3 separate regions of the Homo sapiens genome follow, and regions 2 and 3 are each linked to region 1. Evidence: fine-mapped expression QTL. A gene starts in region 1. Each other region holds a variant in brackets. All regions are shown on one strand. Distances are between the middles of the regions. Region 1 holds the start of ZSCAN20 (zinc finger and SCAN domain containing 20). Region 2 overlaps CSMD2 (CUB and Sushi multiple domains 2). Region 3 has its middle 230 kb from the start of C1orf94.

The links. PIP is the estimated chance that this variant, and not a neighbour inherited with it, causes the effect.
Region 2: its variant is fine-mapped to the expression of ZSCAN20 in aorta (GTEx, PIP 0.95).
Region 3: its variant is fine-mapped to the expression of ZSCAN20 in monocytes (Fairfax 2014, PIP 0.95).

Annotation. Positions count from the first base shown.
Region 1 is chr1:33,467,471-33,477,707 of GRCh38, forward strand. ZSCAN20 (zinc finger and SCAN domain containing 20) reads left to right here and starts at 5,175. Exons shown (of 8, transcript NM_001377376.1): 1 at 5,175-5,221. It also overlaps the pseudogene TLR12P. RefSeq lists enhancers at 697-1,223, 1,224-1,748 and a silencer at 3,138-3,432.
Region 2 is chr1:33,569,839-33,580,075 of GRCh38, forward strand. It overlaps CSMD2 (CUB and Sushi multiple domains 2), which reads right to left. Exons shown (of 71, transcript NM_001281956.2): 49 at 7,458-7,646; 50 at 2,668-2,853; 51 at 1,694-1,888. Among named protein-coding and RNA genes, the nearest start is that of ZSCAN20, 100 kb to the left of the region's middle. RefSeq lists an enhancer at 4,321-4,490. The variant T/G (reference allele first, on the strand shown) is at 5,753.
Region 3 is chr1:34,400,710-34,410,946 of GRCh38, forward strand. No RefSeq gene overlaps it. Among named protein-coding and RNA genes, the nearest start is that of C1orf94, 230 kb to the left of the region's middle. The variant G/C (reference allele first, on the strand shown) is at 5,119.

The DNA of each region.
Region 1 (10,237 bases):
CTGGCTGGCTCCTCTGCCTACACTGACCACCCAAAACCTGGTAGGTACTCACATGGTGCTGAGCCCAACCTGGGGCTTCCGGGGCCCAGAAAGTCTGCACAGCTTGAGAATACAGTTTCCCTTTGGCCCTGCGGGAGTAGCATTTTCCCTGCTCACAAGACTGACTAGCTTGGAGCTCCACGCAGTTTCAGGCATGAAGCATTGGAGGTTGTCTCCTAATGTCTTTCCAGTCTTGCAGATCCTGACTTTAAAGGGCTGGGGACTGCAGCTAGAGACCCAGAATATCTCCAAGATCTTCCCTGCCCTTCATCAACTCTCCCTGCTTGGCAGTAGGTTGGAGCCCCTCTGTTCCCAGGACACCTCCAGCTTCTTCCTCTGGCAGCTCCCGAAGCTCAAGTCCTTGAAGGATGGGGAAACAGGCATAGCCCTAGGCCCTACTGCATCACGGGACTGCCCAGTCTACAGGAGCTGAAGCTGCAGGCACTGCAGTCTCAAGCATGCCCCTGCCCAGTGCGGCTTGAGGAGCTGGTGGGTGAGTTGCCCAGGCTTGATATGCTGCAGCTGTCCCAAACAGGGTTGGAGACACTGTCTGCTGCTGCTTTTGGGGGCCTCGGCAGTCTCCAGGTCTTAGTACTAGACAGGGAGAAAGACTTCATGCTGGATGACAGCCTCCAGGAGCACAGTCCTCGGATGCCCCAGTACATCTATATTCTGACCTCATCCTTGGCCTGCCAGTGTGCCAATGCCTGCGTGGGGCCCTGGCTTTAGCAGTCCCCCAGAACATACATGCACATAGTATCACAGCAGCTGTGCCATTCAGAAGCTGGGGGCCACTCAAAGAATCTCTTTTTCCCTTTTCTCTGGAGCCACTGCCCCAAGACTTTGGGGTTGGAGCTCTTTTTTGCGCAGCTCTGCCCTGCTGCTTCTGCTGGTCTCCTTGCCCTTCCTAAAGGAAGCCAGGAATTCCTGGATCCTCTAACTCAAGGCCTTGCTCAGGGTTTGGTTCCAGAGTCTGAGGAGTCAGAAGGGTAAAGGCAAGAGGTTCCTCTATGACGTGTTTGTGTCCCACTGCAGGCAAGACCAGGGCTGGATGGTGCAGGAGCTGCTGCCTGCTCTAGAGGACTGCCCTCCAGCTGGCCGGGGGCTGCCACTCTGCCTCCATGAGTGGGATTTTGAGCCAGGCAAGGATGTGGCTGACAATGCAGCAGACAGCATGGTGGGCAGCTGGGTCACGCTCTGTGTGCTGAGTCACCAGGCCCTGCACACCCCCTGCTGATGCCTGGAGCTCCTCCTGGCCACCTCCTTTCTGCTGGCTGTCCCCCACCCCCCAAGGGCTACTGCTGGTCTTCCTGGAGCCCATCTTACGCCACTAGCTCCCTTGCTGCCACAGATTGGCCTGGTTGCTCCGCTGAAGAGACTATTGCATGTGGCCCAAGGAAGAGGAAAGAAAGAATGACTTCTGGGCTTGGTTAGGGAGCAGGCTGGAGCACCCTGGGGTAGGGTAGAATGGGTGCGTGTGTGTTGGAAGGTGGGGGTAAGAAAAGCAAGCCAGCTTGGCAGGGAGATAGTGAGTATGTGTGGGCTATGAGACTGAACTCAGTTTTTAGTAGAAGGTGGGGCTACTGTGTGTGCAAGGGAGAATCAAATGGGAACACAGGCTTTGGGAAGGCTCTGGAGGCTGAATAAGAAAATCTGGGAGATGGCAGGTGGCCATGTGGTACGTAATGTAATCTCAAGATCTCCAAACCCTCAATAAATGTACTAAATCCATGAATGCTTGGCTTGATTGAATTTTTTTTTTTTGAGATGCAGTTTTGCTCTTGTTGTCCGGGCTGGAGTACAATGAGGCAGAAGGTGAAAGGGTTGGATTCACAGAAACTGTAGTCCAGAGGAAATAAGGTTGGAAATTCATGGAGAGAGAGGGCAAAGAGAGAAGCCTTTGGCCAGTCCTAAGCTGTGGAATGGGGTCCAGGTCAAGTTCAACCAGATCTTCAAGGGGCCAAGGGACCCCTTTTGCCATCTGGGTTATAGAGGGATTGGCAGCTAAGGATCAAAAAGCTGGGATGCTGCCCAGGAGACAGCAGACTGATTGCCTGTTCCCTCAATAAAAAACATGAAGGCCTGTTCCCATCTATCTCCAGTTAAGCCTCATAGCAACACTGGGAGGAGAAGCCTACCCCCTTGTCACTCTGTACTCTGACTATGCTAGACTACCTGTGGGTCCCAGGACATCATCACACCTTTTGTCTCTGGGCCATTGCATATGCTGTTCTTGCACTGAAAAATACCTTTTCCCTGGGGAACTCTTAAGTATTATTTAAGATGCAGTTCAGCCATCACTTTCTTCAGAAGCCTTTCCTGATCTCCCAGCCTAGATAACTGTTGCCCCTGGGCTCCCACAATTTCCTGCACCTCCCTTTCTCAAAGGACTGATCACAGGCCTGAAAGCCACAGAAATAGTGGTCTCCAAAGCTGAGTGCACAAGATTATCACACTATGGTTGCAAAGAAACTGTTATAACTTCTATTTCTATTTTTTAAAAATCTTACCTTATTCTGAAGCTAGACTGCCTGCTTTTTTAGCCACGTGCCGTTAGCATGTTATTTAACCTCTCTATACCATAGTTTCCTTTTCTGTAATATGGGATAGTGTTAGACTCTCCCTCAAAGGGTTTTGGATGTATTAAATGAGTTAATACATATAAAGCACTGAGAGAAGGACCTAATAATGCATTGCAAATGTTCAAGGAAAGTTAGCTATTACAGGCACATCATTTATAAGTAAATAAATACACATATGTTGGGAGTGTGTGCTCAACTCAAAAACTCAAAAAGGCTTCACTTATGGGAGCGCTCTATTGGGAAAGTTTAGAGATCAGGCCCTGGGGTCAGAGACCAGGTTTGCTTCATCTCTGCATCCTTAGAGCCTAGTGTCTGCCCAAATCAGAGAGAGTCCTGGTAGACAAATGCAGACAGAACGCTTGCAAACCAAATCCTGATGGGTGCTGAACCAGAGAGAACCTGGAACAGGTTCAGGCTCTGTTGCTTATTTCTACACGGCACTAAAGGGCAGTTGGCCTCTTGAGGACTTCGTTAGTTTTTTCTCTTCTGTAGAATGCCAGGCTTTAATTAGACAAAGGCTAAGGGAAACCATAGAATAATTCGAGGCTGTATTGAGGGCGAGGCGCGCCCTCTTGTGTCCTAATGATGTCCTCTCCTCTCTCTGCACACTCGCCTCCCTTCTTCCTCTTAGGGCAGATGATGCTGAAGTGGACACGTCCTTACCTGACCCTGCAAAGCTGCCTCTCCAGCTTCAGATCCTGACACTCTCTCAAATGTTTCCGGCTCCCTTGGCACCCCACACTGTTGCACTGTCCCTCCCCATCTCAAACCCTCCTACTTCCACATATGGTCTCTTCCTCATGCAGTGTAGGACCTTTGGAGTCACATGCCTAGGGGGTGACAAATCGCAGCCCTGGTTCTTATTGGCTCTGTGATCTTGAGTAGGTCACTTCGTTTCTCTAAGTCTCATTCCCTCTTTGTAAAGTGGAGCAAACAATACCAATCTCATAGGGCTACTGTGAGACTTCAACACCAAGGAGTATTTACGGGTTGTTATTATGTTTACTGAGTAAAATCACATGAGTTATTACTACAAATAAGTTGGAACATGTTTCACAGAGAAGGAATTTAAACTGGGTCGTTAAAGCTAAGAATTCTCCTATTTTAACACTAGCCAACATGCATTGAGCTCTTACCAGATGCTAGGTATTGTCAATTTTCCCTAAGCCGCATAACCATTGGTAATAATAATAATAGCTAATGATTATGTATATTATTGTATTTTCTATTTTTTAAAATAGAGACGAGGTCTCACTTCGCTGCCCAGGCTGGTCTCAAACTCCTGGACTAAAGCGATCCTTCCGTCTCAGCCTCCCAGAGGGCTGGGATTACAGGCATGAGCCTCCGTGCCTGGACTAGCTAATGATTATTAAACACTTTCTGTGTGTCAGACATGTGTCACGCTCTTTACATACCTTCTCCCATTTATTCCTCTCAACAACTGTCTCAGGAAGAGGCAAGTATTATCATTCCCATTTTACAGCTGGGAAAATGCAGGCATAAAGAAGCTAAGTAATTTGCCCAAGGTTTCACAACGCGGGTGGTATGACCTGCATCCTTCATTTGAAAGTAAGAACTTTCAGACACAAGCAGCTTGACTTCAGAGACTTTTACCTAAATAGTCTCATTTAACCTTCATAACACCCTGTGATGTAAGTTCTCTTACATTACTTGCATTTTATAGATGAAAATTCCAAAGACAAAATAGATGGCAGTAATTTGTTCAAGGCCACACAGCTGCGAAGTAGTTGAGTTGGGATTTGGATCCATGTCTGACTACAAAGCCCCCATTCTCAACACCACATTAGATTGTTCATGCCCCAAAGTATTCACAGTGGTACAGAGCACCCGCATTTATATGAGGATTATTTTGTAATAATGATTAACATTCTTCCAACACCTAGGAAGTGCCAAGCTCTGTACTAACTGATTTACATAATAATAGCTAACAATCGCTGTGCATTATTAGGAGCCAGGCCCTGAGCTAATCGTTTTAGGTGTATTATCTCATTGAAAGTTCACAAAACTCTGTGACATGGATGCCATTACTACCCTCATTTTATGGTTGAAGAGAACGAGGTTCAGAATTCTTCCAAAGTCACACAGCTTAGCTGTAAGCTGGAAATTAAAGCTACAACTGTCCAGTTCTCTCCTGCCTATCGGGCTGGTCACCTCTAGTCATTCTCTCTTCTTATTTCTTATTGTGTCTGCTTTGATCTTTCAGGGTCTGAGGCTCTCACTTCGACCCCTCAGTAGAACTGGGCCCCCTTCTGCTCGAGTGCCCTCCCATTGGGCGGTGCTGTTATCCGGAAGCCTATGGAAAAGGCCAGGATCGCAACAGGTCCCGCCCCCATGTGTCGCGCCCGTTCCGATTTGTTCCAGTGCCAGGGTCCGTTAGAAGATGACATATCTATTGGCTGAAGACGTCTGAAAGGCAGCAAACGGAGGGGGCCGCCCCCGGCGCTCGCGCGGTTCCTTCTGGGAATTGTGGTCTCAGACGTTCCATTCCCAGGGTGGCGCCGCTCGGACTCCGCGTCCCAGCATTCCCCGCACGAGCCCGGGAGCACTTCCGCCCTGTTGTGAAGTGGGTGTCTCGGTGGGTGAGTCCGGGTGGCGGGGCGGGGGCAGCTGAGACGCAGGCTCTGGGCTGGAGACTTAGGAGGTGGTGGTGACACAGGGGGCTGGGGAAGGTGAGAGGGGAGAAAGAAGCTTATATGTGGGGGTGGAGGGTGAGGGACGGTCAAAGGATGTAGAGGCCGGAGATGGGAAGGGTCATACAGGGGTCGGGGATGAGGAGGCGATAGAGGGCCCTGGGAATGAGGAGGGCCTTAGAAGGGTCTGAAGGTGAGGGGGTTGAGGGAGGTTTTGGAGGTGGGAGAGTCATAGAAAGGTCTGGAGACCACAGAGGAAAGGATAGAGGGTCTGGGGCCCTGGCAAGAAGTGAAGAGGGCCTGAGCTTGAAGCCCGACCTTAAAAATAGTGTTTCAATCTCTACCTTCCCATCTAGAACAAGCATATCTAATTTGTTACCTCCCTAATGATTGTTACCTCTGGAACCCAGTGGATGGGACTGGCTATTGTGTTCTGCCCCAAACCTGCACTTCTTTCCTTATGTCTTATGGAAGTCAGTGGCACGATCATCCCATTTACCTACCTACCTACCTACTTACCCACTGATTCCTCTTGCATTCTTCCACGTCCAAGGATCTTCCGATCTTTAATTTCTTTAATATCTTTTCAGTCGGCCTCTTTCTTGTAGGGTTTTCGCAGAAGCCTTTTCAGTTTCCCAGCATGAACACACACATTGCACCTAGTGTGATCTGTTTCACCTACAAATCTGATTATGCCTTCTGCTTGAAAACTTTCATTGGCACCCAGCACCTGTAAAGTCCAAACACCTTGTCCTTCATAAACTCCTTTTGCAGCCTAATCTTCATGCACCTCACACTCCAGGGCTGTCAAGGTTTTCCTCGTTTCCTGGGTAGGCCATTTGGTTTTCCATCATTATATATGCTGTTCTCTCAGCTTAGAATATTCTCTCCTTGCCCTTCACCTTCTTTGCCAAGAGAACTTCTTTAACTTAAAAAAATTTCAACTCTTACTTTGCTCAATTCCCTTAAGCAAATTAAGTCACCCCCAACCCTCAGCTCCCATAACTTCTCCTATTACCACATTTGATCATAATTATCTGTGAAGTGTGTGTCTCTTCCATTAGACTGTGAACATCTCCAGGACAGGAACAGTGTCTCAATCACCTCTGTTTCCCCATTGCCCAGTCTAGAGCAGTAAACACTTGATGTAAAGCAGTAAATACTTGATGTATGTATGTGTGAATGAAGACCATGCAGGGTAAGCTTTGCTATACCAGCCTTGAAGACTTCTATTGCCAGTGGATTTCCAGGGCAGGAGCTTTAGTCTTCCTCTGCCTGGCAAGGCTATCTGCTGGAAGCTGAAGCTGATTCATTGCCAATGGGAGTTTAAGCCAGGGGTGACAAATACATGGAATGTGTGCTGCCAGTGCCCCTTCCTGTGTCCCTGGCAGTCATGGCTAATTGGTTGGTTCTCAGCACATATTCACACTGTACTCAGAGCCCTCAGCACACTACTCTAGGCAGCCACTTCCAGTTGATTGAAGTTTCTGCTTTAAATGAAACCTATTTGCTCTCCCTGGCTTAAGCCCTTATGTGTGAGGTCAGGTCAGACTGCTTTAAGCCATAGCTTGGACTGTCAGCCAAATGGGCCTGACAGCCTTTAAGAGTTCCCAGTTTTTTCTCTTTGGAGGTCACAGACCAGTCTTGGCCTTTCCTGTGGAACTGGAGAGCATCTTCTCTTCCCTTTTCACTGAGTGGGCTCCTCATGACCACGTTCATACTTACTGCCCTAGGAGTCAAGATGCCCCTCAGCTTCCCTGTGTTTGTAAAGACATCTTGATTTTGATGGCAGTCAGCACTTATCCCTCATGACCTGGGAGGCTCTGTACTCTTTCTAGGTCTTTCTGGATATTGGAAGAGAGCTTTGAGATCACTTAGCTGAATCTAAGTGGCAAAGCGACAGCCCATGCTGAATGAAGTCCACCATCATGCTTTATTTAATCTCATAGTGTGTGAAAAAATTTTGAGTTGGTTACCAACATTTAAAAATCCAGAGTGCTAGTTTCTTTTGGAAAAATCAGCAGGCTTAGGAATATTCTGGGCATATGTTCCCCTGGCACTCTATAGTTGGCTGTAGTGCCCACCCAGTTCATTTCAGTCATTGACTCATTTACATTGCTAGGTCCTTATACCCATTTAAACTTGTAGCCACTGACTCTAGTCTCCCTTCTCCCTTGCTCTACCCCATCATACTAATTGGGGAACCTAGGGCAACTGCTGAGTAAGATCAGGCTGTAAGCTGCAGCCTAGCTAGGCAGCCACAGGGGCTACATAACTTGTCCAAAGTAACACAGCTGATTAGTGGCAGGAGTGGAACTAGAACCCCAGTCTGCTCACTCCTGCCTTAATGTTCTTTCCATTCTCCCGTACTGTCATCTTAAGAGTTTGGATGACTAGCACACATAGAGGAGGCTATAAGACATGGTTAAGAAAAATGATTGGAGAAAAGGGATCTCGGCTTAGACCCTAACTCTACCACTTGCTAGTTGTGTAACCTTAAGTGAATCTTCATAAACACTCAGTTTCCCTTTAGGTAATTGAGGATATAGTGCAGTCATACCTTATCAGATAATAATATTCTAAGGGTGAAAATCACTTTAGCCAAAAATCACAGTTAGTTTGAAAATCCTTTGGCAAGGAGCCGTTTCAGAAACTAACACGCTGCCTTTCAATAAATAAACTAATCAGCACAGCTGGGCTTTCTTGTTTGAACATTAGATGAGAATTCGCTTGTATTAGGGACTGTGCGGTATGAAAGACACTTTACTCACACTTAGTGGAAAGAGAGGCACGAGGGAATCAAGACCAACCTGGTGAATAGCGAAGTCCTAGGTGCCACCACCACATGCTTATTCTCGAACAGATAGTGAACGCAACTGGCTGCACTATTTAAATCATGCTCTTTCTCTCTTTCTTTTTTTTTTCTTCTTTTTCTGAGACAGAGTCGTGCTCTGTTGCCCAGGCTGGAGTGCAGTGGCACGATCTCAGCTCACTGCAACCTCCGCCTCCTGGGTTTAAGCAATTCTCCTGCCTCAGCCTCCCGAGTAGCTGGGATTACAGGTACGAGCCACCACGCTTGGCTATTTTTTTTTTTTTTTTGTATTTTTAGTAGAGACAGGGTTTCACCATGTTGGCCAGGCTGGTCTCGAACTCCTGACCTTGTGATCTCCCTGCCTCGGCCTCCCAAAGTGCTGGGATTACAGGCGTGAGCCACCGCGCCCGGCCCTCTTTCTCTCTTTCTGATCTTTGCAGTGGAAGTTACAGATCAGTGAAATGCAGCTCAACACCTAATGAGACTCCAGTTGCTGCCTGGAGGCTTCAGTGAGATTATGAATGTGGAACACAGCACTGTGCCTGGCACCTTGTGGGCACTCAGTAAAGGGGTACTCTTAGAAATTGCTGGTCCTAATGAGGCTCGATATTCCTGGTCATCTCGGAACTGAGGAATGCCCCGGTCCATTTTCCCTTGTTCACTTCTGTGTGAAGTCACCCGGCTGTTGGCCGACTCTGTTGGCCTCCCTCTCCCCACAATAGCCTGCTATCCATACTTCGGTCTAACTTCCTTAGAAAGTTACGGTTATGGTTCCTTAGAAAAAAAAGGTTATGGTGATATGTGGTCCCTGGGGCTTTCCGATTTCTATTTGAAACAAACCTTTGGGACTTTCAAGTCTTTCCAGGAGAAAATACCTATTATCTGAGACTCTGAGCTTTGGGCCTGGTGTGACTGCTAATTGCCTATTTTGTTGTAGTGTCCTGTTTGTGCAGGAACGCAAATGTCTTTGCTTGCTTATTGACTGTCTGTCTCACTAGACTGTAATTTTATTGAAGGTAGGGACTGTCAGTCCCAGCTACTGGTAGATCTGTAGCTTCCAAACAGGGTATAGCTGGTACTCTATAAATGATTGATGAATTGCTCCTTGTGTGAGAGGGTGACAGAAATGTGTTTGAACTCATGCATCAATAAGGTTGTGGTTCAAAAAGAAATTTCATGAAAGGCGAATTCTTTAGGTTCAAAAAGAAATTTCATGAAAGGCAAAATCTTTCTACATATGTGATCTCTCTGAGTGCTTATAGCAGTAATGTAGGTAGACAGAAATAGTTTAGTTTAATATAAATTATGGAATATCTGTATCCCATTAGGCTTTTGATACGCCAGGTTTATCATTTTAATACATGGTAATAAAACTTTTTAATGGCCCTGCTATTTATCAGATACTGGGTTGAGCACTGTGGATACAGAAATTAGTAACATACAATACTGATTCTAGTAATATAGTATAATGTGGGTGTCAGATATAGTAACAGGTAACTACAATAGTGTAGGATAATACCTATATTAGAGGTATGTACCAATTGCTTTGGTGATATAGGATCAGGGAGGCAATTCTTGGAGGGCAGGACATGAAAAGGGCATGTCAAGGAACTCCTATCAAAGGAGGTGACATTTGAGCTGGTGGTTGAAGGATGAGTAGGAAGCTGCCAGGTAGCCATGAGTTGTGCTTTAAGCCTCTTCCTAAGCATATGGAGGCCTTTAGGGCAAGACTTTAATTTTTATTACCCTTGTCTTGTTTCTCTTCAGTCCAGTCAGATTGCCCAAAATGAAAAATACCACCATCTCTCCATTCTCAATTCAGTTGTGTCATTCCCACTTGGAAGCAGCTAATGATCTCCTTTGAGTGGGCATTTTTTATGTCACCCAGACTTGTTGGGATGACACAGAGAGCTCATTTTTTCAAATAACCCAGCATGGGTGCCATCAGAGAGGCTGTAATCTCCTCTGGGACACACATAGATACGCACATCCTTCTCATACAATGTCTCATACAGTGTAGAAAGTGGTAAGTGTCACAGAGACATGGAAATAAAAGAGAAAGGAATTCCTTTTGGCATGAGCGCGAAGGTCATTTATTTTTTATCTAGTGTGCACAGAAAGGGATTAATTGCAATCCTTGCTTAATGACACAC
Region 2 (10,237 bases), 100 kb after region 1:
CTGAGATGTGCACTGTGGTTAGGAAGAGATGGCGATTCTGTGGTATGCTCCTGAGTGCCCTGGGCAGACACTGCTAATCAATTTCCTTGCCCTTCTTTTCTGAGCCCAGCAGCCTCACACTCTTTGTCAACAGAGCACTGCTGAGAGCCTCTGGCTGATGTATGAGGTGAGGCCTAATCGCCAAGGCTGCACTGAAATGTGAGTGGCTGCATTGTAGTGAGGCTGCCAAACGCTTGGGACTACTCTGCCACATATGTGGTTACATCCCACTGTGCAGTCTGCACCACAGTGTGCAAAGACAACAGTGTCATGAATCACGGACATTGGCTTTTTTTTTTTTTTTTTTTGAGACGGAGTCTTGCACAGTCGTCCAGGCTGGAGTGCAGTGGCACAGTCTTGGCTCCCTGCAACCTCTGCCTCCTAGGTTCAAACAATTCTTTTGCCTCAGCCTCCCAAGTAGCTGGGATTACAGGTGGGCACCACCATGCTGGCTAATTTTTTTTTTTTTTTTTTTTAGTAGAGACAGGGTTTCACCATGTCGGCCAGGCTGGTCTCGAACTCCTGACCTCAAGTGATCCACCCACTTCAGCCTCTCAAATGCTGGGATCTATGCCCAACCTGGATCACAGGCATTGGAAGACACCATTTCTCCTCCTTCCCAGTTTCAAACTCCCACTTCTCACTGACCACTTCCTTCTACCTCTTTACAATCACTTGCCTCCTCTGTGACATCTGCATTGGTCACATAAATATGATGAGCATATCCCTATCGTAGTGCATGCTGCGATGAGCTACTCAGAGCCCCTTTTAGGACCGAGGGACTTATTTCCCCAGCTGCTGGAAAACAACCCTTGGCTGGCAGCCCTTTTCAGATTGCTGTGGTTGAGGAGTCCTCCCACCTAGGAAGGTCATGTCCCATTCCTAGGCCAGCCTGCATCCAGTGGCTGGTCAGTGTGGCAGTATAACAGTTCCCTTGCTCCAACTTGTGACAATTCTGAAGGGCCATCCAGAGCTCCCTGGGGGGTGAGCTAAGGCTTTCATGGATACTGCATCAGAGCTCAATTCTCCTTCTGCCCAGTCCTGCTTCCTTCCCTCCTTTCCCTTCTGTAGGTGGTGTTCTCAAGAGCACCCCCTAATAAGCCTCTGTCTCAGAGTGTCTTCCCAGAGATTCCGACCTTTGAAAGTGTATTAAAGAACCAAAGAAAAACAATTGACAATGGAGAAGGCAGGCAGGTTTAGGTGACCTGTCGCCTGTGCTACCCTCATTCCTCCTATATACACTCCCATTTCAGGTCTTATCGCACCACATTATCATCACTTCTTTATGTGTCTGCCTCTCCAGTAGACTATAAAGTCCTTGTGGGCAGGAACCAAAATCTTTTATCTTCAAACCTCTACAGTGTCTGGCATATAGTAAGAGCCTAAGAATATTAAAGAAATGAATTAGTGCATGCTCATCTGGACAAAAGCAGCTTTTGATAAGATGAGAAGATGCTAAGAAATACTTCCTTAAAGGAGTAAAGGAGTAGGCATTTTCCCAGCTCCTGATTCTACTAGATGAGAGTTTAAAAAGCAGTACACTGCAATCCCTGGTGATACCCCTTTTTCCCCCACCCCAGTTCACTCCATGCATGAGACAGCTTAGGTAGGAGGGACCCTGCTAAACTTGCCCACCCTCCCTTCCTGGGCTTACTTCGGCAGGTGGGCGTAGAGTCCCCGAGGCTCCATTTGCCATTGGCCTGACAGCGGATGACCCTTTGGCCAGTATAGTAGTAGCCAGGGTCACAGATGAGCATCAGCTGGGCCTGGAACTGATACTGTGTCTCAAAGATAAGCCTCCATCGGCCATGCTCCACGCTGATGCTACTGACATCAGGACAAGTCACAGCTGGGGAAATGAGGAAAAGAAAGGAGGATTAATTACTTGATTAATTCTGGAAGACCTTGTAAGAGCCCAGATCTAGGGACTTGGAGACCTTAATGCAATAATGAAGAATCCAGGAATCTTCAGTTCTCAGGCAGGTTTGGTAAATGAACAGGTGGGTTGGGTGGGGGATGTGGCAAACTGGGGAGTACAGTTCTGCTAAAAAATTAAAAATTAAAAAAGGGAAATAGTACTCAGTCAAGGTTGACTATTGAATGTTTGAGTTGCATTTGATTAGATTTTCATTTTTCAAGAGAAGACAGAAATCTGGATTTTAATGTAAAATTTCTTGATTTTAAAAGATTGTGGAGTAATTCAAAATTTGTTATAAAGCACCGTGTAGGCCAAAAAACAAAACAAAACAAAAACCTCTGTCTTTGGATGGGACATAGTCGAGGAGGTTGCCATTTTGTGATCTGGCCTAAAAGTTGTTGTTTTTAGAGCTTTGGAATCAAGGGACATTCATGCAAACTTTCTGACAGGTTTTCCATCTAAAAGGGAGTGGACCAGGCCATTCCTAAGTTCCATGGTGGTTTGTGGAAACATCTTAGGGCACAATGGTTATCAATGCTGAGAGCAGTTTCAGCACCTGCCTCCTCTTCTGAAATCCTCCAACCTCCATGTCCATGTTTTTTTTTTTTTTTCCCCCTCATTACTTTGCTTTTAGCTCACTCCTTGCAGGAATCTTTCCAGCTGCCTACCTAGCCCTTCCTTACACCCGCCTCCATTGCCCGAGGACTCACGGACACACTGTGGTGGGACATTGCGGTTGCTCCATAGGCCTGTGTCCAGACACTCTGCAGTGGCCTCAGCGCCTGCCTGGAGGTGGTAGCCTTCACTGCAGCTGTACATGGCCTTGGTTCCCACTGTGTACTCCTTGCCAAACACCATTCCATTCTTGGGGGCCTCAGGAAGCCCACAGGAAAGAGCTAGCAAAAGGAAAACAATGTCATGAGCATTTGTTTTAAGATGGTATTCTGAGAAACTATTTTTATCCTTCCTCCCCTCCCAAGGTCCTTTTATTAGTAAAAACTAATTAAAGGGTAAAGTATCATAATAAAAAAGAAAATGGGAGGATCATCAGCAGAAGAGTTTTTTCTTCTTTTTTTTTTTAAGTTTGGAAGAAGGAATAAAGATAGAAGTGCAAAGAAGCTGTAGCTCAAAATATATGGGAGGGAGCCTCAGGGTGAAACCAGTTCTCCGCCATCTGTTCCCACAAACACAGTGTAGACACATTCAAGTATCTACTCTCCAAACGAAAGAGAGAATTTTCTTTTCCACTGAGGGGGGATCTCTCTTAGGATGAATTAGGGCTGTTATGGTGGGAGTTGGCATCCCAGAGGAAAGCTCTTTTAATTCTAGGATTTATGGTCTCTTGGCCTAAAGGCTGCCCCATTGCCTACTCAGGTCTGCCACATACTCAACTCAACCTCTCACTGATAGGAGAGACTTTGTGGACCAAGATATCTGTATATAAAAATAACAAACGTAATCCACATCTCATAGCTGGAAAAATCAACCTGGCCCTTACTTTTAAAATACGATCAAGGATCATTATACATGTGAAGAAAATCAGCAGTGCGAACAAGACAAACCAAGATAAAGTTTAAAATAAATGTCCCCTTAGGAAACAGAGCTAATTTAGAAAACAGAAGATACACAATCTTTAAACTTCTGATCAGTAGTATCTTGAGAAAGTCAAGGTGACATACGGTACTCATAAAATAAAATCAGTGTGCTCTGAAGGAAAAAAAAACAAACAAAAAAAAAACAAGGACAAACTCTTTGAAATGAAAAATATGATTGCCGAAATAAGCATTATAGGATTAGAGATGAAAAGTAAATTTCTCAGAATATAGAAAAAAAAGAGACCGAAAATGAGAGAAAATGACAGAAAACACGGATCAATCCTCAATACAGAAGGTCCAGCATCCAACTGTTCAGAGCTCCAAAAAGAGAGAACACAAAAAGTGGATGGGATGGAATTATCATAGATGAAAATTTCTCAGAGCTGAAGAGAGACACAAGTCTTCAGATGGAAAGGGAGCCAAAGGAATGCAAAGAGAATCCCTCTTAGATTCACCATCACGGAATTTTGTGTATCTAAGAAGTCCAGAGACACACAGGCATTCCTCCAAATTACTAGAAAGAGGGAAAAAAAAATGACATAACTGTGAAGGAACGAGAATCAAACTGGCATAAGACTTCCCATCAGCAGTGAGTGTTCAAAGATAATGGAACAAAGCTTTAAACCTCTGAAGAAAATGATTTATAAACTAGAATTTTACCCAGTCAACTGACCAAACATGTGTGAGGGCAAAAAGATAGACACTTTCAGACATGTAAAGTCTCAGAAAATGCACCTCTTGTGAACCCTTTCTGAGGAATTTACTTAAGGATATACCCCATGAAAAAGAGGGTGAAAACCAGGAAAGGACAATATATGAGATATGAAAAATGACAGAACTAACTCAAGAATACAAAGAAAAGGAATCTCAAAGGGACAACTCAGGAGAGAAATGTTTGCAGCAACATGGCCAGGATTATTATTTTATAAGGAGTAGGGTCGACATTATGTTTATAGGAGGAATAGGAATTACTTAGGCAAGAGTAGACTGTTTGGTCTTTGAAAGAAAGTAATACTTATAAATCATCCTTGCTCTTTGACAGCTCAGGGGGTATTACAGATGGAAAGATTAATCCGTCAAAGTACCCACTACTGCCTCCATCCACTATCCCCTCTGGCTACTAGTCTAGAGCTCAGAACTTTTTCGCTTAGAGCCAGAATAAGCTTGGGCAGAGTCCCATTGAGATTGCCTAACAAGATGCTTGATGCTATAAGAATTTCCAGAACCAATAAGAGGCATCAGGCTGGGGCTCCATTATGAATGGAGGAGGGTAGACTGTTCAGAGGGAGAGAAGTTGGAATACCAAGATGGAAGAAGGATCTAAGTGTGGGACTTTCCAGAAGAGGAGGATCAGGAACACAGAAGGAATGAGAAATAAGAGAGTGTTTAAACATGAGACTCTTAATGACTAATCAGAAAGGCTATGAGCTCCTTCAGTGGAACTAGGTTAGCTAAGCTGTCATATTACATCAACTACCTGCCCAGCTTCCTTAAATCCTTTGGGAAGAAATACTTGGATCTCCACTGGTGTCTTGCATGGAGAGTCAATCCAGGGAGGGCAGTGAAGGAAGTGGGCGGCAGCCACTTCTCACAGGCCCTGGCCTGGCCTTGCTCTTGTAGATAACTAAGGGGACAGAAGATAATACTCCAGCCTGAGATACTAAAAGCCTGTGTCTCATGATCTCCATGCCAAAATGCAGTCCCCAAAACCCGGTGGTAAGAGGGACACTTCCTGTGGGTAGGAGGAGGAGGGGATACAATCACAAAGTATTTGAGGCTTGTGGTGGAATGAGATCTCTGAGGGAGAGAGACACAGGTGAGAGAGTGGGCTGGGGAAGGAGAGAGAAGGCATTAGGAGGCATAGAGTCTCTAAAGGAAGAGTGGAAAAGTCATGGTTTGGAAACAGCAGTAGAGAAGTGGAATAATGCCAGGCCCTTCCTGGCCCAGAATTCTGTGGGAAGTAGGAGGTGGGTGGAGGGGGATTAACAATCCACTTGAAAGGGCCACAGCATACGTGCTCTCAGAGGACAGCCATGGTCTCCATGGAGGGAGGAAGTGAAGACAGCCAGCTGGGTAGGGACTGAGGGTGTACGCTTGCTGGCCACGGAACTAGGATTCCAGAGAACACAGTGGGAGGCTTAGAGGAAGGGCATCAGTGGGAGGCAAGGGGTGCAGTGGGGAGAAGACATGCACAGTAGTA[T/G]GGGGATGGGTCAACTGAAGTCTGGTGGAGGCTTAATTTTGGGTGGTGATGTAAGGTAACAGAAATGAGAGGCTTAGTAGGTTCCAACTGGCGCTCCGGAAAAAAGACTTGTCCTTGTTAATGCAGTTAGAGACGCAGAGACCAAAGCCAAATGCCATTTGCCATTTGTGGACAGCCAGTTCACTGTGACCTTTGCTTAGGGGTAGAGTAGATTATTAATAGCACATTGTTTTTGTTCTTTGAGAAAGCACAGGCACAGGCGAGAAGGTTGTGAGGATTAGAGATGAGAGATGTCATTAAAAAGTACTTCACCACTACTGGGAACCAAAGGAAAAATCAAATAGCAATGTGATTTCCTGTTTTTGTCTATGTAGTTGGCAATGTTTTCTTCTTTTTTTAAATGCAGTGCCTAACGTTGAGACTGTGGGAGAAAAGACAGTTCTCACATGCTGCTATACATGAGGACAAACTTTCTGGGAGGCAATCAGTATCGACAGCTGTCAATCGCATACGTTATGATGCGAGAATCTCATTTCTGAGAATTTGCCTTAAGGAAATATGTAATATTCATAAAGATGGAATTATAAGTTTATCGTCACAAAGAATATAGAAATCCAAATGACCAACAAGAGAATGATACTTAAATGAATGACAATTTTCTCATAATGCTGTGCAACTATTGAAAATAATGGTGACGAAGTATAATATTAACAATAGAGTCCAGGCGCGGTGGCTCACACCTGTAATCACAGCACTCTGGGAGACCGAGGTGGGCGGATCACCTGAGGTCAGCAGTTTGAGACCAGCCGGACCAATATGGTGAAACCCTGTCTCTACTAAAAGTACAAAAATTAGCCAGGCATGGTGGCGGGTGACTGTAATCCCAGCTACTCGGGAGGCTGAGACAGGAGAATTGCTTGAACCCAGGAGGCAGAGGTTGCAGTGAGCTGAGATCATGCCACTGGACTCCAGCCTGGGCGACAGAGGGAGACTCTGTCTCAAAAAATAGTATATAGTTAAATATACTTCCTCACCATGATTTTCAGTGGTTGCACAGCATTATGGGAAACAAAATCTATAAGAGCTTTGTACACGGATGATCCTATTTTTATAATCAATACATAAAAGACCAAAGGAAATGTGCTGAAATGTTAACAGTGGTGATCTCAGGTTTATTGTTCATTTTCACTTTTTTTCTTTTGCATTATCTACCGTTTTTTTTTTTCTTCTTCAGATTTTTAGTTTGAATGTATATTACTTGAAGGGAAAAAACTGTCATAAATCATAAAATCATAAATCATAAAAGGTAATGCATGCAAATTGACTGACACATTTCAAGTGTTTGATCAACCCACTTGCTCTATGAGCCGGAACCCAAGCATCCCCTCTGCTGGGAGCCCTCCCCAGCTGGCCAGGAGGAAGCAGATCCTTTCTCACCTCTGGGCTCCCACAACACTGATTATGCTCCTGACACGACACTTCCTTCCTCTGCCACTTTGCATTGATGTGCTCACATACCCATCTCCCCCATGGATCTCAAAACACTGAGATTGCTACGCACTACAGATCTTGTAAATGCTTGTGGAAAGAATGAAATAATTATCAAAGAGGAAACCCACATTTGGAAGTGACTAGTCCTGGGACAAACCCAAGATATGAGTTGGATCCGAGCTACCTTGTGACCCCCTTTCCACCTGCTTCTCACCTTGACAGAGAGGGATGGCTTCGCTCCACAGGTGGTAGCCCTGGGGGTGCCGGGTACAGATGGCCATGCTGTGTCCCACCAGGCGGTAGCCGGCGTTGCAGCCAAAGTGGATGGAGCCCCCGGGCTGGGTGCTGGTCTGGCCTAGGATGAAGCCATGGAGTGGAGCCCTGGGCAGGCTGCAGTAAGGGGCTGAACAACAAGATGAGGTTCAGGGAACTGGCACCAGCAGGAAGACAGACATGGTCTTTCATGCAGGCCCCTTTCCCTTTCGTCTCCCCCCCATCCCCTTGTCTTTGCCACTGCCACATCCTCTGCTGTTGAGGAAAGTCTGAATGGTGGATATTGAAAAACACCCAGTCAGGTTGGTAAAGCCGAAACAAAACAACGGAAACAAAACAAAACAAAACAAAAAAAACCAGCTTCATGAAGCACTGGGTCCCTTTTGCGGTCCAAAGGTAGATCTGGTGTATGGCTAAGTTCAGGCTCTCAAATCCCTTCAGCTCCGAAACAGACTTAGAAAGTAGAACCCAATGGGGTTGGTTCCAGAAAGCTGCGACTGCGGGGGTGTGGACTTTGACCTTAGTGAGGGCTGGGCTCCAGTCCCGTTTCTGATCTGACCAGTTTCTGTAACTTGGGGCAAATCACTTCAGCTCCAATTTCCTCGCCTGTAAATTGGGACTGGTAATACCCACCTCACAGATTTTTGGGCAATTTAAGCTGTATATGTAGATTGCGTACATAAAGCCCCCAGCACAGCATGGGGCACTCACTGTTCAATGCTCAGTAAGTGGTCATTGTCCTTCTTTGTGCTGTGTGGGGGAATGTGCTGAGACTGACCTGTGGCAACCTGGGACACACATTTCCCTACAGTGCTCATTTCCCCTCCACATATGGCTTCAACTTATTTCATTCATTTATTCAACAAATAGACATCAAGTATCTATTATCTTCCAGATATTGTTCTAAGTGCTTGCAATACAACAGTGAAGAAAACAGACCAAAACCCTGGCCTGGGCTCACGCCAGTAATCCCAGCACTTTGTGAGGCTGAGGCCAGTGGATCACTTGAGGCCAGGAGTTCAAGACCAACCTGGCCAAAATGGTGAAACCTCATCTCTACTAACAATATAAAAATTGGCCAGGCGTGGTGGTGCGTGCCCGTAGTCCCAGCTACTCGGGAGGCTAAGGCAGGAGAATCACTTGAACCCAGGAGGTGGAGGCTGCAGGGAGATGAGCTCATGCCATTGCACTCCAGCGTGGGTGACAGAGTGAGACTCTGTCTCAAAAAACAAGCAAACAAAAAAAACAAAACAAAAAATCCCAGCCTGAAAGGACTCACATTATAAAGCCTGCCAGGGATCCTCAGGGGGAGTTCTGTGAGGCCAGGAAAGAGGGATGACCAAAGGAGCAGGCAGATAATTCTCTTTGTTTGCCCTAGGAGTCCCTGGTGGGGTCTTCCAGGCAGAGATGGATAAGGCAGGATGCGCGTGTGGGGCCCTTACAGCCACCCCTGGTGAGGTCCCCGGCCTCTTTCTTGGTGATCATATCCGTCTGCCGGTGAAATGGTTGTTTTAAATAGCTGCCTTCCAAGCCGAATTTGTTTCCCTACTCCTGCTTTGCCCGCTGTGTCCTATGTGTGCTGTATCCACATGGTTACCTCCCTCAGGAACAAGAATCTCGGTTGTAAAATATACTTAGTCACAGTGACAGACGCAGGTGCAAATTACACTCATCTACTCGATCTGAATTATTAAGTACTAATTGTTGCGCCATGTAATTAACTCACTTTCTACGTGGCATATGTATTGTAATTACAACTGACTCATTATCCCCAAACACGTTAGAACATCAAGGAAAGGGTAACTCCTTAATAACGTTCAGTTCCTAATTTAGCAACCAGCATAGTGAAATGCTACCAAACTGCTATATTTCCTGTTTGAGTGAGCAGCTGCCAGGAACTCAGCCCTAAGAGGCACCTTAAAGTTTCTTTTCCATCATGCGGACACTGAAGCCTGAAGTGGTTAAGTACCTTGCCTAATAATCCCACAGCTAGTAGGTGAGAGAGCTGGTCACTGACATTGGGGCACTCAGTCATTGCAGCCACCCAGACCCCTCTCCGTGTGCACCAGGGAAAGGAGAGGTTGGATGGACTTTGCAGAGGATATGGGCTCTGAGACAGTCAAGACCCACCTTCTCCCAGGGGCCCTCAGCTTCCTCTGGTTGGCTCTCCCCTGAAAGCTACACCCAGGGATTCTTTAAGACTGTCCACCCACTGAGTATGGGCTGGTCTTGCAAGTAGGAGACCCATGAGAAGAGATGGACTGTGGCAAGTGGGACTTCAGGCACTGAATTTGACATTCCTTCCAACCAAGATTCTTTTTTTTTAATTTTTTTTTTTTTTGAGACAGAGTTTCACTCTTGTTGCCCAGGCTGGAGTGCAGTAGCGTGATCTCGGCTCACTGCAACCTCCACCTCCCAGGTTCAAGTGATTCTCCTGCCTCAGCCTCCCAAGTAGCTGAAATTACAGGTGCATGCCACCATGCCTGGCTAATTTTTGTATTTTTAGTAGAGATGGGGTTTCACTATGTTGGTCAGGCTGGTCTCAAACTCCTGACCTCAGGTGATCTGCCCGCCTTGGCATCCCAAAGTGCTGAGATTACAGGCGTGAGCCACTGCACCTAGCCCCCAACCAATATTCTTTAGAAATTTGTTCATTGTTTGCCTGGAATGTAGGCCAAAGGTAGCCAGGGGAAAGAGTGCTGAAAGGGAACTGGTGTGTGA
Region 3 (10,237 bases), 930 kb after region 1:
TCTTTGGGAAGGCCATTATTCTTTCTATTGTACTTATTCACATAGTATTTGCACACAAAGATCCAAAAAATCTCAGGAGTGACTGAGATGGATGAGGGCCAAGAACAATATTTGTGTCCTCTAAGATATCTTTACAACATATATAGCATGAGTAAATTTCAGGTGACCTTCGAGACCAATTTGGCAACAGCTAGTAGGATGTGAAAGTGCACACACACTACAACTCAACATTCACTTCTAGGTGAATGCAATAGAAGCTTGTGTACATGTGCTCTAGGACACAGGCTCATGAATCTCCACAGAGGCATCTTTTTACTTGTGGAAAAATTGGGCTGAGCTTCACCACGAGGATGGATATCTAAATTCACATAAGGAAACATCACATAGACCAGAAGAACCCAAAGCTACCTAAAGCAGTCTGGTGGATTCTAAGACACATTACAAAGAAAACAAGTCATGAGAATACATACCACATGATATCATTTATATAAGTGTATATAAAAGATTCAAAGAAATATAGTATTTAGGAATATATGAAGAGAAGATACTATACAAAAAATAAGCATGAGAAGATAAGCACCAAATTTAGGAAACTGTTTTCTCTTGAGGAGGGAAAGGAAAGTGCTATTAGGAAAAGGGATGTATTTCTTAAGCAGGATGGTGAGCACTTATTCTGTAGGTCTGAAATAGTTCATACTAAAATTTTTAAATTGTGATCTTGAAATTTTTGGGCAAAATTGTAAATGCTTTCATCCAAGTATCTTTAAGACTTGAGAAGATGGGATTTTTCATGGGGATTCCTGGAGTGGAGGACACTATTTCTGAAAAGTGTCTACCAAGGAGGCAGAAACAGTGACTATGTCAAGAACGGTGATTCCTGGGAGGGGCCTGCAGGCCTTAGGTGAGGCTCTGAGGAGGGAACTTGGGAATGAGAAGGTGTCCTGTTTTAGGAACTGTCAGTCAGGATTCTTTCAACTGCAAATCGTAGGAAAACCAACTGCATATTAAAACAAATAAAATAAACACATTGGCTCATATGATTGAAAAGTCCAGATACAGTTTTGGTGTTAGAGCATGGTTTTTTAACCTCATTGCTACTGACATTTTGGGCTGGATGATTCTTTGTTTTGGGAGCTGTCCTGTGTACTGTAGGATATTTGGCAGCATCCCTGATCTCTACCCACTAGATGTCAGTAGCACCTCCCCCACCTCCCAAGTTATGACAATCAAAAATGCCTCCAGATATTGTTAAATGTCCCCTTGGGGAGAAGGAGCAAAATCCCCCCCAGTTGAAAACTAGCTTTAGGAGACCTGACCTGGTGACTCAATTGATGTCACCAGGACCTGATTTCTCATGATCAAGGCACAGATAAGCCAAGACCACAGAAGGCTGTGGTCTTGGCTCATCTTCAGGGTACACATGGTGGACCCTGGTAGCTCCACACTCTCCCCTTGTGTCAGTAAAATGGCCATCAAAATTGCAGACCTCACAGTCTCCCCTAGACCTGACTGCCTAGGGGAAGAGAAGTGGTCTTTTTTTGGTCATTCCCACAGAACAGAGACTGCATCTTCCCACGCAAAATCCTCAGCATGTTTCCTCGCCTCTCTCTGTGCTGATTGTTTGGGTGCTGTCCTAGTCCACTTTGTGCTGCCATAACATAATACCTGAGACTGGGTAATTTATAATGAATAGAAATTTATTGGCTCATGGTTCTGGAGCCTGGGAAGTCCAAAAGTGAGGGGTCAGCATCTGGCAAGGGCCTTGCTGCTGCATCCTCCATGGCAGAAGGGCAAAGAGAGAACAAGAGAGAACAAGAGATTGAACTTGCAGCGTTATCCTCTTTTATAATTCATAACTAGCATTAATCTATTTATGAATGTGGAGCCCTCATGACCTAAACGCCTCCCATTAGGCCCCACCTCCCAATACTGTTACATTGAGGATTAAGTTTCCAATATATGCTTTTGGGGGATACATTCAAACCATATCATTTCACATCTGGCCCCCAAGATTTATGTCCTTCTTACATATAAAATATATTCATTCCATCTCATAGCCCCAGAAGTCTTAACTCATTCCAACATCAACTCAAAAGTCCAAAGTCAGAGTCTTATCTAAATCAGATACAGGTAAGACTCAAGGCAGGATTCATACTAAGGCAAATTTCCTTCCAACTGTGAGCCTGTGAAACCAAGAGAGTTACCTACTTCCAAAATAATGGTGAGACAAGCATAGAATAGACATTCCCACTCCAAAAGGGGGAAATAGGCAAGAAGACAAGGACAACTAGTCCCAAGTAAGTCCAAAACCCCAAAAGACAAATAACATTAAATCTTGGGGCTCCAGAATAATCTTCCTTGATTCCATGTTCCACCTCTGGGCACACTGACATGGGGGTTGAGTCCACAAGGACTCCAACAGCCCTGCCCCTATAGCTTTACCAAGCTCAGCCCATATAGCAGCTCTTACTGGCTAAAGTCAGGTATCTGCCACTCTCCCAGGCTGGTGTTGCATGCTGGTAGCTCTACAGTTCTGGAGTTTTGGGGGTGATCCCATCCTCATGACTCCACTAAGCATTGCCCTCATGGGACTCCCTGCAGTGACTCCACCCCTGGGATGAGTCTCTGCCTGAGCATCCAGGCTGCCTGAGATATCCTTTGAAACCTACATGGAAGAAACTGTGCTCCACAGCTTTTGCATTTGCACACCTGCAGACTTAACACCACATGGATGCTACCCAAGATTTGCTGTTTGCTTCATCTGAAACTGTGGCCTGAGCCACACCTGACCCCCCTTGAGCCACACCTGGAGTGACCTGGGAGCATTTTGCCAAAATTTCAGGAGCAGAGACTTGAGGCAGCTCTGGACAGTGAGCCTCAAGGTCCCCAGGGTGCCCTAGGCCTCTTTTTTGGCATACAGTCATACATCACTTAATTCAGGGCTAAGTTCTGAGAAATATTTTATTAGGCAATTTTGTCATTGTGTGAACATCATAGAGTGTACTTGCACAGACCGAGATGGTCCAGTTACTACACACCTAGGCTATAAGGTATAGCTTATTTCTCTGCTACCACCAGAAGTCATTTGACTTTGGCATTCTGGGCCTCTGGTAGGAAGAACAGCACTAGTAATCTACAAAGTACCTTATGGTTTGTTCTTCCATTGTCTTGAAGAATAGCCTCTGGCTTCATTTTATGCATACTAATCTTGTTATCAGTCAGTGGCTTGGCCACAGCGTTGGTTTTCTCTCCTGAAAATGCTCTTTCATTCTCTATCACATGACCAAACTGAGCATCCTTCAAATCCCTAAGTTCTGTTTCCTTTTAATTATAAATTCTCTCTTTAAATCATCTCTCTCATTTTATTGCATGCAGTTAAAAGAAGCCATGCAGCTTCTTAAATATTTTGCTTAGAAATTTTTTCCACCAGATACTCTAGTTCATCGCTCTTAAATTCTGCCCTCCATAAAGCCCTGGGGCATAGACACAATTCAACCAAGTTCTTTGCCACTTCATAACAAGGAAGGCCTTTACTCCAGTTTCCAATACGATATTCCTCTTTTCCATCTGAGACCTCATCGGAATGGCCTTTGCTGTTCATATTTCTACCAACATTCTGATCATAGCCACTTAAGTAATCTCTAAGAAGTTCCAGATTTTTCTTCCAGTTCTTCTTTTTTCTGAGTCCTTACCAGAATCCCCTTTAATGCTCCATTCACTGCAATACAGGGTTTTTCTAGCCTGCTCCTCCAAACTCTCCCAGCCTCTGCCCATTACCCAGCTCCAAAGCCATGTTCACATTTTCAGGTATTTATCATAGCAACACCAACTTCTCCAGTACCAATTTTTTGCCTAGATCCACCTTGTGCTGCTATAACATAATACCTGAGGCTAGATAATTTATAATGAATAGAAATGTATTGTCTCATGATTCTAGGGGCTGGGAAGTCCAAGACTGAGGGGCCAGCATCTGGCAAAGCCCTTGCTGCTGCATCGTCCTATGGCAGAAAAGCAAAGAGAGGTCAAGAGAACAAGAGATTGAACTCTCAATCTCAAGCCCTTTTATAGTTTGTAATCAGCATTAATCCATTCATGAGAGTAGAGCCCTTATTACCTTAATACCTCCCATTAGGCCTTACCTCCCAATACTGTTGCAATGGGGAGTAAATTTCCAACACATGCTTCTGAGGGAACACATTCAAGCCATAGGAGGTGCCCATGGCTGAGTCAATCCCTGTGGTTAGAGGGAGAGAATATGCTGATTGGCCTACACCCATCAGGACCCACTGCTGGAGCTGGGATGGGGCCACCTCTCTGTCAAGCCACATGGCTGAGGAGGGAGGTAGAGCAGCTTCCCAAACCTGCCCAAGCACCATTCCCAGAAGGAGAGAGTGCAGCCACTGGGCATCCAATGAGTGTCATTACAGGATGTTAAAAAGGCAATTTCAACATAATTGATGCTGCCTACCAAAGTGAAGAGGCTGAGAACAAATTTCACAATCCTTAGACCTCTCAGCAGGACCTCTGATCAAGATGAAAATATGCAAGAGAGAGTTAAAGAGTGACTAGAGTTGAAAAACAAAAAGCCAGTGATGGTGGTCTATATTACCTCCTTCACCTGCAGCTATAGAAGTACCATTAATGGGACCCATAGAGGCCCCACAATGTGGCCCCTGGAGTGGTGGGAACACTTAAACTGATGTCTGACTCCCACACAAACTACTGTGGAATCTCAAGTGAGAGGCAGTGCCTGTCAGCCTGAGAAAGCAAAACAGACAGAACAATGTAGGCAGAGATGGGAATCCCTACCTCAGCAGGACAAACTGAGCCCCACTTTCTCAGCAAGGACAGTGCACTGTCCTGCAGCCACCCAGATTTTCTAAGAAGCAATCTGAACCTGGGCAAAGATATTCCAGTGAGTTGATTCTGCTGTGTGGCAGATAGTGCTGCAAAACTGGAGGTTAAGGGGTCTTCATGAGGCTGGAAGAAGGTGTCCAGAGAGGAAGCCTCAGCCTACAGACCTATGTCTGCTTCCTGGAGACACTCCCTCTTCCTCCTACCCCACCTTCTACCAGTCAAACCCTGAAAGGGTCAGAAACCTCGGAAACTCCCAGGTCA[G/C]CTGGCAGAGAAGGAGAAACACTGGGCTGGGAAGCCAAAGACCCCGCTGCTTCTCCACTGTAAAGGACCCCTTTAGCTGGCATTAAAACAAGTCCAGAATTTTTATTATCTAGGAATAGACCATTTTAATTACTGAATTGAGACTATTTGCGGTTTAAAGTGACCAGAGATCTTTTTATTACCTTAAAGCCGGGAGAAAATTATGGGGCCTGCCTGACACAGACATTTCATCCTCAGGCAAGGGAAAAAATGGGCCTCACTGAATAAATTTTAAAAGAAGAATGGGAGCAAAAATAAAACTGTTCTTCGGTCGTATCTTCAGGTTGCGCTCACTCAATGAGCAGGCTCCATGTCCTTTAATGGAGCCCACGGAAGAGACTCCAGCAGGACTGTGAGCACAGATGACAGACTGGGGGGCAACCCCACTGCCTCCCACCCAGGGAGGCTGAGTCTGATTCAAGGGCTGCAGAAACTCCTGCAGTGGCAATCAGAGCAGGACTGGGGTTCAGGGAACAACCCCCAGTGCAAGGTCAGGTAAGAGCAGGGGTAGAGGCCCAGCAGGCAGCAGCGATTGCAGACAAATGTCCCCTAGCAGAGAATAGTGCCCCGGCAGAATAATTTAAAGACCACCCTGGGACATGCCTAGGGAACTCTAATTTCCCATCTCCCCACAGGGCCTCATCTAGATTACCAGGTTAACACTGTGATTGTTTACTTTCTGCCCTGATTTTCTTGGCCTCTATCCCAAAGCACTGCGATCCAGGAAGCAAAAGTTACAAAAAGTGCTGGTAGACTAGAGGTTGAAGGATCCTTGCTGAGGCCCTCATTTCCCCTTTCTCCAAACAAAATCACACGCAGGTACCTGGTTCCTCTCTCACCTCCATGAAGACCCTCAAGGGCATGGCATGCTGCTCCTAAACGCTCTCCACTGCCTTCCTGTTTATTGTTCTGCTTTGGCCATTAATGGGGCAAACAGCAAATGAAACTGTAATAATCAGTCCAGTCTTAATAAAACTAAGGCAATAAAGGGCTCACAGAGCCATCTCCCGTTCTGACAAGTGTATGCTAATTGCATTCTGTCTCCTTGCAAATTACAGCTGTTCCTCGGGTTTTTAAAAATTTGACATTTCATTTTGATTGCAGTGGCTTTATGTTTTCTCTAGCACTGGGAAAGGGGAGGGGGCTGGTAGGGCTGAGCACAGACGCTGACCTCATAAGGGGAGTGCAGATGCTGCTATAGGCTCAAGGCCTTTGGGAAGAGTTATATTTTTGAACTTACAGCAACAAGTTTGAACCTAGATGATACACAGGGCATTTCTGCTTCTGGCAGATTTAGACGAAGTGGATCCAAATCCTCAAATTTCATACCTCACGTGGATCCAGGGCCCTTTCTGTGATTTCCCCAAATTCCTGACTGTACTTCTCTCTGGAGCCCTCTAGTTTTGTGCCTCTGGCTGAGTGAATCATTCTGACTTGTTTGCACATTAACTGGTACACATAGCTCAAGAAATCCAATCGCAGTTGTGATCACATGAGGTCACCGCCTTGTCTGAGGTCTTGAAGAGTTACAGCAGGATTTCCATCTGGTGTAACATTCTGCCACGTCTGTAGTTCAGAGGTTCTCACAGGGTGGGCCAGGGAGTACACAGGTGTCTGAGAGATCTAAACTGTTTTCATAACCACGCCAAATGTGGTTTGCATTTTCCACTCTCATGCTCTGTCAAGTGCACAGAGAAGTTCTCCAGCATCTACCTGATGCCTGATGATGTCACTGATTGGAGGGCCAATGAAATGTGTGCTTGCGCATTCTGGTATCTTAAAATGTCCTCAGTTTGAATTACCAATATATTTTTTTAAAACCAATGGGTTTAAAAAAACATAAAAGTTTTTGGAGTCTTCCACAATTTTTTTTTTGAGACGGAGTCTTGCTCTATTGCCAGGCTGGAGTGCAGTGGTGCAATCTCGGCTCGCTGCAACCTCTGCCTCCCAGGTACAAGCAATTCTCCTGCCTCAGCCTCCCAAGTAGCTGGGACTACAGGCGCTCGCCGCCATGCCCAGCTAATTTTTGTATTTTAGTAAATACGGGGTTTCATCATGTTGGCCAGGATGATCTCGATCTCTTGACCTCGTTATCCGCCCGCCTTGGCCTCCCAAAGTGCTGGGATTAGAGGTATGAGCCACTGCACCCGGCCAGGGTCTTCCATAATTTTTAAGGGACCAAAGACTGCATACTGCTGTTCTAGTGCACTCCCTCAAGCCCTGCTTTCATTCAAACCTGCTGCTCCTGCCAAGAGACCTTGACCTAAACATGCAGCCCCACTGGGAGGGATGGTCCAGTTAGCCCTGTTCCAATTGCCTCTCGAATCAAGAGCCCTGTGAGGCTGCTCTGCCTTCCACAGCCTTCCTGGAAGTCTGGCAAATTAACTATTTCTCCATCTCAGTATTAAGCTGTCCCAAATCTTGCAAAACAACTCACCAAGACTCGTGACATTCTTGGGAAGGAATGCACCACATTCTTGAGATCATGCCTAAATCCTTCTTCATGGCAAAGTTTAGCGTGAAGGGCAAGTTTGTTACTGCCCATTTTACAGGGGCAAAATTGAGACTCTGAAGACAGATGGTAGAGATTCTTTTAGAACCCTCTAATCTGTGATTTCTTAACATCCACACCACAAAGCCTCTTGAAGTCAGTTTGAAATATTCTCTCTCCCTTCCCCCATGCTTTTGCTTTTTCCCCATCTCCTCTTCTCTCTTCTCCTTCCTTTCTTCTTGCCCCCTCGCCTTCTTCCCTTTTGTTCTCTTTCCCTCATGACCTTCCTCTAAACTGGTTAAGGTGCTACCATTTGTATCTTTGTCATGCTTTCCCTGGAAATAAGAGTGAAATTCAATAAATGCAAATGGCAGAGAAATCCGGACAATGATGCTTCGACAGAATCAGGGGGCCGGCCCTGTCAACATCATTGCATAGCTGATTCTGGGAAGAACCATAGCCCTGATATGAATTCCTCAGCTCCCTAAGTCCCCAGCTCTCAGTGGAAATGCAAACTGCCACTCTCCAATCTCCACTCAGCCAGCAGCCATGAGGTTTATCTGCCCCCCTCTAATCCCCTTAATTTTTCCCACTGGCCCTATTTCCACCTCGTGCCTGAGCAGAGGTTTCCCACTAATGTTGCAGATAACTCACCCTTTCATTGAGTCCTCTGAGTTGGGATCTGAGGAGAGAAAGGTAAGTAAGATCCAATCTTTGCCCGAAAGGAGTGAACAGGCCAGTGAAGAGACAGATGCACCATCAGATATAGATGGTGCGGTGGGATCCATGAGTGAATAGAAGCCTGGATCGATGGTCACAGGAAAGTGGACTTGGCTCTTCAGTTTTGTTTTTTTTTTTAATTCTATGTCTGCTGGAGGACTGATGGAGGGGGGTGAGAGAGTAAGACAGGCAAACAGAAGATTAGGAATTAACTGAGGAATTAACCGGGTTACTTGAGAGGACTCAGGAGCCCAAACTGCAAAGTTAAGGTTACCACAGACTCCAAACTACAGTAATATCTCAGGTGCCTGAAAGTGTTTTTTTTTTGTTTGTTTTTTTGTTTTTTTGTTTGTGTGTGTGTGTGTGTGTGTGTGTGTGTGTGTAGGAGGGGCAGGTGGCAGAGTGAAATAGAGACAGGACTATCTAGGCTGTTTTGTGGAGGCTATATGGGGTCATGGCTAAGGACATTGGCCATGGAGTTAGAAGAACCCGGATTTATAAACCAGCTCTGTCACTTACCAATCTGTATGACTTTGGACAAGTCTTTTAAGCTCAATTGTACAATGGGAACAAGGATAGTACCTACTCATAGAGTTATGATGGTTATGTAAATTAATATATATGAAGTTCTTAGGAAAGTGGCTAAAATGTAAGAGGCAGTAAATCTATAAATGTTAGCTGAAATGATTCATGTACAGCATTTAGCATAGTGCCTAAAGCATGGTGGCTCACCCATTGGAGGAAAGGAGCTTCAGCTCAATCCAGGGGCTCAGGTCCTCAGGGACAACAGACACCAGGTGTGATAGGACCAGGTTTCCAGACCCCCTTCATCCCACTCACCAAGCAGAAAGGGGCTCTAAATACACTAACAGGCAGGACTGTAGGATTTGGGGATGGCGTTTGGAGGTGCATGTTAGGTGGTGACAGCTGAGGTAGGCTGCAAGTGGCTAAGTCTGTCTCTGGACATCCGTCATCAGTGGTCACCCTGTGATGAGGCCCATAACCAGGCCTGGGCACATTAGGGCAGCCTTCACCAAGGACGCAACATTTCGGTTACATGTGAGAAGATAAGTAGGCGTTTTCCAAGATTATGTATGAAACAAGTCACATAAATGTCATTCCTACCACACTTCTTGAAATAGCTTCGCATAACTTTCTAAAATACTGATTCATGCTTTTTAAGGTTGAGCTTTATTATTACATTGTTGAAATCTAGTTTATTAACAAAGCTAAAGCTGATTGGTAATAAGTGAGGAACACTAGTCTTATAAGTGAAGACATTTAGACCTGGAGACAGATACGTATAAATTATTTTATAGTCTCGATCAGAAACTCTGATACATATGTATAGCTGCAGTTTACAAGTCATTTCTAGCTCATTTAATCCTCAAAAACACCCTCTGAAGTGGGTATCAGTACCCTCATGTTACACCTGTGGCAACAGGGAGCTCAGTTCTTTGCAGCTTCTGCCTGGGGCCATGAAATTCTTCTATGGACTTTTGGGCAAATGAGTAACAAGCCACCCATGCTCCCTCAGTTGGCTCCTTGCTACTTTAGGTAGTGACTGACAACCAGCCAGTTGGAGCTTGCTATGCTATTGTGACCAACATCAAGGCACAGCCAAAGAGCCCCTCTAATAAGTCTTGTTCTAAATTATTAGGGTCTCTGTTATACGGAGAATGGACAAAGCGCTTTGGAGTGGTCATTTTATGTGTCAACTTGGCTAGGCTGCAGTCCCCAGTAACTCCATCAAGCACAAATCTAGGTGGATATTTTGTAGATGTGTAGTCCATAATCAGTGGACTCAAAGTAAGGTAAATCACCCTAGATATTGGTGTAGGCCTGATTTGATCAGTTGAAAGGCCTTGA